Regions from separate parts of the Homo sapiens genome. Here region 1 is linked to region 2. The links come from fine-mapping of genetic effects on gene expression. A gene starts in region 2. The other region holds a variant in brackets. All regions are shown on one strand. Distances are from middle to middle. Region 1 overlaps PHRF1 (PHD and ring finger domains 1). Region 2 holds the start of LMNTD2 (lamin tail domain containing 2).

What was found. PIP is the estimated chance that this variant, and not a neighbour inherited with it, causes the effect. A credible set is the group of variants that fine-mapping cannot tell apart.
Region 1: its variant is the best candidate, but not a certain one, in a credible set for the expression of LMNTD2 in Th2 cells (Schmiedel 2018, PIP 0.62).

What each region holds. Positions count from the first base shown.
Region 1 is chr11:588,766-593,273 of GRCh38, reverse strand. PHRF1 (PHD and ring finger domains 1) reads right to left here. Exons shown (of 18, transcript NM_001286581.2): 5 at 1,807-1,890; 6 at 600-715. Among named protein-coding and RNA genes, the nearest start is that of PHRF1, 15 kb to the right of the region's middle. The variant G/C (reference allele first, on the strand shown) is at 2,669.
Region 2 is chr11:558,113-562,279 of GRCh38, reverse strand. It overlaps LMNTD2 (lamin tail domain containing 2), which reads left to right and starts at 1,542. Exons shown (of 14, transcript NM_173573.3): 1 at 1,542-1,597; 2 at 3,301-3,424; 3 at 3,514-3,666; 4 at 4,032-4,119. The coding sequence starts at 1,564. RASSF7 (Ras association domain family member 7) reads right to left here and starts at 1,310. Exons shown (of 6, transcript NM_003475.4): 1 at 803-1,310; 2 at 388-518; 3 at 1-201. The coding sequence starts at 511. LMNTD2-AS1 (LMNTD2 antisense RNA 1) reads right to left here and starts at 3,018. Exons shown (of 2, transcript NR_147607.1): 1 at 2,804-3,018; 2 at 2,174-2,501. RefSeq lists an enhancer at 1-507.

The DNA of each region.
Region 1 (4,508 bases), 31 kb before region 2:
AATTATTCAAATCAACAGGGAAAGCCCCTCGCAGGAGGCTAACGGGGAAGGGGGCATCTGCTTACAGCCAACGACACAAAGCAGGGATGAGGAGACAAGTGTCACAGGCTCCCGGGAAGCCAGGGCCACGCAGGGCCAGAGCAGGCGCTCTCAGCTGTGCCAGGGAGAGCAGCAGGTGCAGCATAACTGGACATGCACCAGAGGGTGAAGGAGGAGCAGGGTGAAAGGTGAGGGACCAAGGCAGCCAGAATGATGGACGCAGGCATAGCCACCCCTCCCCCACAAAGGCCGGGACCAGGACACGTCCCACCCTCTGGCTGACCAGCCCCACAGCCTCCTGTCCGGCTGTTTTCTTTTTTGTCTTGATGTATTACCTGCACTTCTGTGGGCAGCCTCAGAATGTTTTTTGGGGAAAGACTGAAGTGTAAATGAGTGTAACAGGAAGGCCCGCAGGACTGAACCGCGCTGCTGAGGGTGGTGAGCACAGCTCCAGGTGCTGGGACTCAGACTTCACAGAGCGAAGAGGCTCTGCATCCCTCCTGCGCCTGGCCCGCCTTGCACGCAGCAGGGCACGTGTGCCAGTCCCAACCGTCCCTTACCCCGCATCGCAGCCGTCGCAGAGCAAAAGCCTGTCCTCACGGTCGCTCCTGCCGCACACCTCACAGAAGGTCGGGTCCTCCTCCTCCTCGCTCGCTTTGGTGTTCTCCACTGGGATCTAGGACAGAATCGTCGGTCACCACCACACAGGACCCAAACTCCCCGCAGTCACTTCCCAGCGTGAAACGCAGTTAATCCAGAATCCACCCATTGCCTTAGATTCATATTTGGGCTCCACAGGCCCAGAGGGTCTCCCTCCACGTGTACACAGGGATTTTTATGTTTTCTACCATCTCAGGGTGGTGATCTAAGAGGAAAGTATTCAACAGAAAACAAAGTATGATGCACGGAAAGGAGCGGGTAAGCCCTGCGGCCCCAAAGTGGGCCGCAGTAGGGCGAGGCAGCAGGTGCTGGACTGCCACGGAAGAGCAAGATCTGCCTCTTAAAAAAAAAAAAAAAAAAGGCTGGGCACGTTGGCTCACGCCTGTAATCCCAGCACTTTGGGAGGCCGAGGTGGGTGGATCACGAGGTCAGGAGATCGAGACCATCCTGGCTAACACAGTGAAACCCCGTCTCTACTAAAAATACAAAAAATTAGCCGGGCGTGGTGGCGGGTGCCTGTAGTCCCAGCTACTCGGGAGGCTGAGGCAGGACAATGGCGTGAACCCAGGAGGCAGAGCTTGCAGTGAGCCGAGATTGTGCCACTGCACTCCAGCCTGGGCAAAAGAGCGAGACTCTTGTCTCGGGAAAAAAAAAAAAAAAAACAGCCGGGTGTGGTAGCTCATGCCTGTGGACCCAGCTACTCAGGAGGCTGAGGCATGAGGATTGCTTGAGCCCAGGAGATTGAGGCTGTAGTAAGCTGTGATTGTGCTACTGCACTCCAGCCTGGGTGAAAGAGCAAGATGGTGTCTCAAAAATAAAGAGCTCCGAGCAGACGGGCCAGAGCACTGCTCCCAGATGTGATGGGTACAGGGGTGGGGTCGAAGGGATATCCCAGGAGCTGGCAATATCTCTGCCTCTAACCCCCAACCCAGACCCCAAACCCCCCAGACAGGGCTCATGGCCACAAGGGGCACTTGAGTTGATTTCTATGAAGCATTTAACCAACCCTCATTTCAGGAGAGCAAGCCCACTTTGGAAAGCATGCTCTGTCCCACAGGGCCGGGATAGAAGCACGGCTGGGGCCTCCACGGCAGCGTCCACACTCACCTTTCTTAAGATTTTACCACCAAATTGAGCTCGAATACAAATGCACTTAAATAGAGTTCGATCAACTGGACAGGAATTGGCATTCTGTGAGAAATAAAAACAGGATCAGAATCTTGTCAATCACTTTCACTTAGAGATCAAAAATTCTTTTACACTGAAAATCAAGTATCTGCTAAATGCCTCCATGCGCCAGGCCCTCCACTAAGCTGCTGGCAACACGGCAGTGGAGGGAGCACAGCGAGCCTTGCCTCCCTGCAGAGCTGCCAGCCCTAGCGGGGAGGAAAGAGCAGCTCCATGAACGCGTAGCATCTCAGTGACAAGTAAGAACAATAAAGGGAGGAAGGACAGGCGTGGGGGCGGCATTGTGCACAGGCCCCTCTGCGGCGAGCCTGTTCAAGTCTTCTGCTAACTTTTCCAAAAGATTGTTGGACATTCACTAGTAAATTTTTAGAATTTCTTTTCATAGGCCGGGAGCAGGGGCTCATACCTGTAATCCCAGCACTTTGGGAGGCCGAGGCAGGCAGATTACCTGAGGTCGGGAGTTCGAGACCAGCCTGACTGACACAGAGAAACCCCGCCTCTACTAAAAATACAAAATTAGCTAGGTGTGGTGGCGCATACCTGTAACCCCAGCTACTCGGGAGGCTGAGGCAGGAGAATCGTTTGAACCCGAGAGGCTGAGGTTGCGGTGAGCCGAGATGGCGCCACTGCACTCCAGCTTGGGTGACAAGAGCCAAACTCCATCTCAAAAAAAAATTTACTTTCATAGTATGGATAACAGTCAGGTATACGTTGCAAATTTATTTTTGCCTTTATTAATAGTGTTCTGACCCACATAAGATCTTTATGTTGGCTTTATTAA[G/C]GTACACCATACACAAGAAAACACTGATTTTAACTGAATAATTCAATCGGCTCTGACAAATATACAACCTGTGGAGTACCCACCCTGGTCTTCGGGCCCTTCCCTCTCCCACCTGACTGTTTCTTCCTGTTGTCTCAGGGGTGTGGTTAGGTACGTCTTCCCTGGGGTTTCTCAGGATTGGAGCCGCAGCATGGACTCTGCTCATGGCATTCTGCCCTCCCTAGCACTGAAGAGACACTGCCACACAAATGGTCCACGTGTCCATTCCCCCGTGGTGAACATCGATGGACGTGTCTTCGTGTGGGCGCACTCCTGTTTCTCTTGGGTAAACACCCAGGAATACATGGCCTTTGAGGTTGTACGTGTGACACCCCCACCTCTGGAGTCTGGGGTGCCCTCCTACCGACCAGCTCCAGGGGTGTGCGGCAGCACCCCCCATGGTGGGACTGGGGTTCCCAGAGGAGCCCTGCTGCTGAACCCTGCACGCTCCGTGCCCGTTTGCACACATTCTCAGGCTGAGCCCCGCACGCTCCATGCCCGTTTGCAGACATTCTCAGGCTGAGCCCCGCACGCTCCATGCCCGTTTACAGACACTCTCTGAGGCTGAGCCCCACACGCTCCGTGCCCGTTTGCAGACTCTCAGGCTGAGCCCCGCACGCTCCGTGCCCGTTTGCAGACACCCTCTCAGGCTGAACCCTGCACGCTCCATGCCCGTTTGCAGACATTCTCAGGCTGAGCCCCGCACGCTCCGTGCCCGTTTGCAGACTCTCTCTCAGGCTGAGCCCCGCACGCTCTGTGCCCGTTTGCAGACACCCTCTCAGGCTGAGCCTGACATGCTCCGTGCCCGTTTGCAGACACTCTCTCAGACTGTTTAGGAAATCCTTCTCTTTTCTTATCACAGAGCTACCCATGCTTTCTTTTCAAAGGTTCAGCTTTGCTTTCTAGTCCGAGATCTTGACTCCGTCCGGCATCGTGTGTGTGCTGTGAGCAGCCCCCAGCTGACCTGCCCCACAGGCGCCTCCTGCCCCCCCGAGTGTGTCCAGGCCTCTTCTAAGCCCCTGCAAAACCCCTGGGACTGGTTTCCATTCCTGGACCGGTTCCAGTTCAATCCCTGTAGTTTTATAAATCATAATATCCAGTAGGCAATTTCTCCCCTTTTCAAAGCTATCTTGGCAATTCTTGGTGCCTTCCTGTCCTCCTGTGTTGACTTCACAACACATCAAGCACCCTGAACTCCTGCTGGGAAGGACGGAATCAGCATCCTCAACCTCTCTATGGAGCAAGATGTCTCGAAAGGGAAGGGGCCTTGCTTCAGTCACGGCTGTGTTAGAAAAGCTCTTTAAATGTCTTACACGTCTCCTTATGACTTATTTCTAAACACAATTTTAATCTTTATTAACCTCGTATCCAATAATCTCGCTAAGCAGCATTTTAACAGTTCATCTGTAAGAGTTCTCCTTTTTTTTTTTTTGAGACAGTGTCTTGCTCTGTCGCCGGGCTGGAGTGCAGTGGTGCAATCTCAGCTCACTGCAACCTCCAACTCCCAGGTTCAAGTGATTCTCCTGCCTCAGCCTCCCGAGTAGCTGGGACTACAGGTACGTGGTACCACGCCCGGATAATTTTTGTATTTTTAGTAAACACAGGGTTTCACCATGTTGGCCAGGATGGTCTTGATCTCTTGACCTCATGATCCACCCACCTTGGCCTCCCGAAGTGCTGAGATTACAGGCGTGAGCCACTGCACCCGGTTCCATTTGTAAGATTTCTATACTGACAAACTTGTTTGCAAATGCCCTCTTCTGCCCAATATTTATCTAATAAATGCCAGACAGAAAATACA
Region 2 (4,167 bases):
GAATTAGGCAGCGTTCCGGGGGTGGACAGCTGTCTGAGGAGGGCCTCCCAGCTAGGCTGGGCCCTGTGCGCCTCAGGACAAACTGGACATCGCTGGCAAACTGTCCGCAGGTGGCCTGGGCGCCCACTGGACACTCTTGTGGCAGCAACTGCCGCTCCTTCTCCCGAAGCCGCTGCACAAGCACAAAGCGGCCAGTCTGGCCTGGGAAGAAGAGGAGAAGGTCAGCCTATGTCCCCCCGACTCTCTGTCCACCTGGCTTGAAGAGTTGGGAAGAACAAAAAGGATCAGCAACCAGCCCCACTCTCCTTGGGGGAGACCATGGAGCTGGACCACCAGGTCCCACTTCAGCTCTACCTGCCCGGCCTGCCTGACCCCGAGAGGACTCACCTATTGCTTGGGCTAGTGCGATGACCACTTCCTGGCAGGTGGTCTGCTCTGAGACCCCACAGACCACACGCTGGATGCCATCCACCCACACCTTCAGCTCCATGGCCGCCAGTCCCAACAACATGCCTGTCCTGTGGGGAGGGCGCAGGCACCGGGTCAGGACCTGCCTACTCCTATCGCAGGCTGGTCCTCCTCTCCTCATCCTCTTGGCCTGCCCTAGAAACGGCTGGGCTGCCGCCCCTCCGCACGGGCCCCACCCTCCTGTGCCAGCCCCACCCGCCAGCCACACATTCCTGGGGTGGCGGCCCTCCGGAGCACGCATCCTCCCCCACTTCACCAGCTTCCTCTTGCCACGCTCGCACTCCCGGAACAAGGCGAATCATTAACCAGATCCAGCATTTCCTACTCGCCTCACCTGGCTCGGAGGACACTGCCCCCTCCCCGGGCGGCGCGGAGGCGCCCGCACGCCAGGCCCCGCGGCCGCCGGCATGGGAACGCCCCACCCCGACCTGCTCAGGCCGCAGAGGCGCTCGGGGTCGCAACCCAGACCTCGACCCTGCAGATGGAGCAGACTCCGGGTCTGAGCAGCCCCCGCCAGCCCGGGGAGCCCCGCCGCTGCCGCCTAATCGCTGCGCTCGCCCCGAAAGTCCCGGTCCCCGCCGCGGGCACCGAAGCCCGCGCCGCGACCCCAGCCTGGCGGGAGCCAGGGCGTCCCCGTTCCGCAGGGCGGGCGCAGGTGCGGCGCCGCCCCCGCTCTCCGTCCGGGCATCGCGGAAAACTCTCCCCAGTTGGAGTCGGCGTCCGGCCGGCTCGAGGCGCGCCCCGCGCTCCCAAGTACCGGGGACCCGGCGCGGCTCACCTGGGCGCTCGCCAGCCTGGAGACCCGCTCCGGCGCCGCCGCAACCTGCCGCCCCCAGCGCCGCGGCGCACCCGGGCCCCGCGCCCCCATTGGCCCGCGGTCCGCACGCCCCGCCCCTAGCACCCCTATTGGCTGCTCAGCGCGGGCGTTCCGCCCCCTCCCCGCGCCCATTGGCTGCCTCTGTCACGCCCCTCCCCGACCCATTGGCTCGTCGCCGCGCCCCGCCCCCCCCGAGACTACAGGTGTGGGCGGGTCGGAGGGGGGCGCCGAGCCGCAGTCCCCGCCCCCACCTCCCGCCTACCGCGAAAAACGCGGAAATGCGGTGGCTGCGGCCCGCGGGCAGGCGTCGGGGTAGGTGTCTGGCCCCGCTCCTGGGCCGACTTCCTCAGCAGCCTTCTAGTGTGGCGGGTTCCCGCCCAGGAAGGGTCTCTGGCTTGAGATCCCGCAACCCCCGCCTGCGTCCAGGGGCAGCGGGGCCAGCCCCTCCCCTCGCTTCCCGGGCCAGCCTTTGGGGCCTACCGCAGCTGCAGTAGTCTGGACGCGCAGGGGTCGCGGGGTCGCAGGGTCACCAGTCCCGGCGAGGGAGGTGGAGCCCTGCGGAGCTGGCGGGCGCAGAGTCCTGGTGCGGGAGGTGCCCGCTCAGAAGGCCCGGACTCTAGCTGAGGCTCTTCTCCGACACCTTCCTGCCCCTTTTGGACCCAGTGCCAGGCCATGCACACAGTGAAGCTGGCTGGAAGCCGCTCCTTCACCCCCTACCCTACTGTCCCGCCCAGGGCCCCGCAGCCTCGCGGTCAGCTGTGTGGGCCATTGATTGTTCTGCCCAGCTCAGAAAGAGTTGTGGGCGTGGGCCTCCTGCCCGCCTGTCTCCTGTGCTCCCCCAGGGAGCCCTTACATAGCCGAAAGTTGCAGAGATGAAGGGTGAAAGCTGGAATGATTGGGTTTTAATGGGTCAGGTCTGGGACCTGGCTTTTCTCCTGGAGCAGAGGGAATACTTGTCATGGTAATGGGGTAGCCCAGAGGGTGTGGACACGGCTGGGAAAAGTGAGGCTTCAGTTTGGGGGTCAGGTAGGTGAGTGCCTGTCACTGAGGTCAAAGGAGCTGTGGGCTGGGCCTGGCGGTGGAGGCGGGTGCCTGTAGTTTCAGCAAGTCAGGAGGCGGAAGTGGGAGGATCACCTGAGCCCAGGAATTCGAGGTTAACGTGCGCTGTCATCACACCGAAGCATTCCAGCCTGGACAGCGGAGCAAGACCCTGTCTCTAAAGAATTAATTATTAATTTAAAAACAGGCTGTGGGCAGGAGTGTACTATTGCCAGTTAGCGTTCAGCACAGTCCCCAGCTTGTCACTGTTACCTGTCTGCTTCCCCCACACACCCATGGCTATGCTGGGCTGGCTCACAGGCAGCAGTGCCCCCCTATTTATCCCGCTGCTGCTGCCAGGCTAGGTAGGGGATGCTGGGGCCTCCCTCAGGGTGTTGGTCACTAAGTGGTCCCCCCGCTAAGCTGAGCAGTGGCTCAGCCTCTCACACCTCCTCCAGGCTGGGCTGGCCCAGAACTCACCTAGGGGCCTGGTCTGGGGTCTCCCTGGAGGCTCCTGGTAACAAACAGCCCCACCCCTTCTGGGTGCTGGTATCCATGGCAACGGTATACAGCCCTTCCCTCCCAGGCCTGCTTGGAGGTCGGGCCTCAGGTGAGTGCTGGGGGTAGGGCCCTGAGCTGGGGGGACAAGAGAGAGAAAGAGGGACACCACATCACAGGCAAAGGGCCAGCACCTGGGTGGCAGGGGTACACGCCAGGGACATGTCGGGTGGTGACCTGCTGCGCCAGCCTGGTCAGAAACACACGGGTGTGGACACCCACATGTGGGTCCCTTCAGAGAGCAACGCTCTGTGAGTAAGTGGTGACGCCTGGGCTGCTCCAACCTGTGTGGCCACACGAGGCGCACACGGCAGACGGGCCCCCCACCCCTCCCAGCTCCCGAAGAACATTGAGAATGGCCCCCAAGTCTGGCCAGGAGGTTGAAGAAACCGAGGAAGAGGCTCTCCTGTCCCCCACAGAGCAAGAGTCGGTCAGTGGTCACCTGGGACCTCCAGCAGGCGCACCTGCAGCCCCCGAGACTCCCACGTGCCTGCCAGACACCACGCCCCACCCCGCACCGGTGGTCTGCTCTGCCGACCCGCAGTAAGGAGGAGAGGGAGGACTGGTGAGCCTCCTGGGCCAGGTGGCCAGGGGCCGGCCTGAGTAAGCAGCAGGGTCTGCTGCCGCTGCAGGTTGGCTCTTGAGTCCCTGGACCCTCGCACACTGCGGCTGCTGTGGAGACAGCGAGAACTGGAGATCCAGGCCTTGCGGTGGGCCATCCAGAATGGCGAGGACGCCCGGCTCTGCCACATCCTGGAAGAGGTGGCGGGGCTTCCGCCCAAGAGGTCTGCAGCACAGTCCCCAGCCCAACCCAACCCCGCCCTGTCCTCGCCCGGACTCCTGGTTTCTGTCTGACCCCAACCCCAACCGCTGAGGCAGATCCTTACCCTCATCCTTGCCCGCGCTGACCCTCCACCCTGATCCTAAGTTAACACGCTATAGCCTCCACCCTAACCCTGCGCATGTGGATGGGTGCTAGACCCTTGTCCAGACCAGCCGGAGGCTGGCCAGCCCCAGCGGGGCTGTACTGTGTGCCCTTGGGGCCAAGGTGGCAGTGGAGCCCCTCCTTCTCCCCTCCTTCGCCACTGACCTGACATTAGGAACCCCTGCCTGAGCAGGGTGGGGGCTGCTGAGGTCACCCCTCCTCCAGGAGCTCCCACAGTCAGGAGAAACTCCTGCAGAACCAGGTCCAGAAGCTGATCCAGGAGTTGAAGGAACAGAAGGAGCGAGCCCAGTGGGTGAGGCAGGGGCACAGGGAGTGGGCAGGGTCCTGGTGTTGGGGAGCC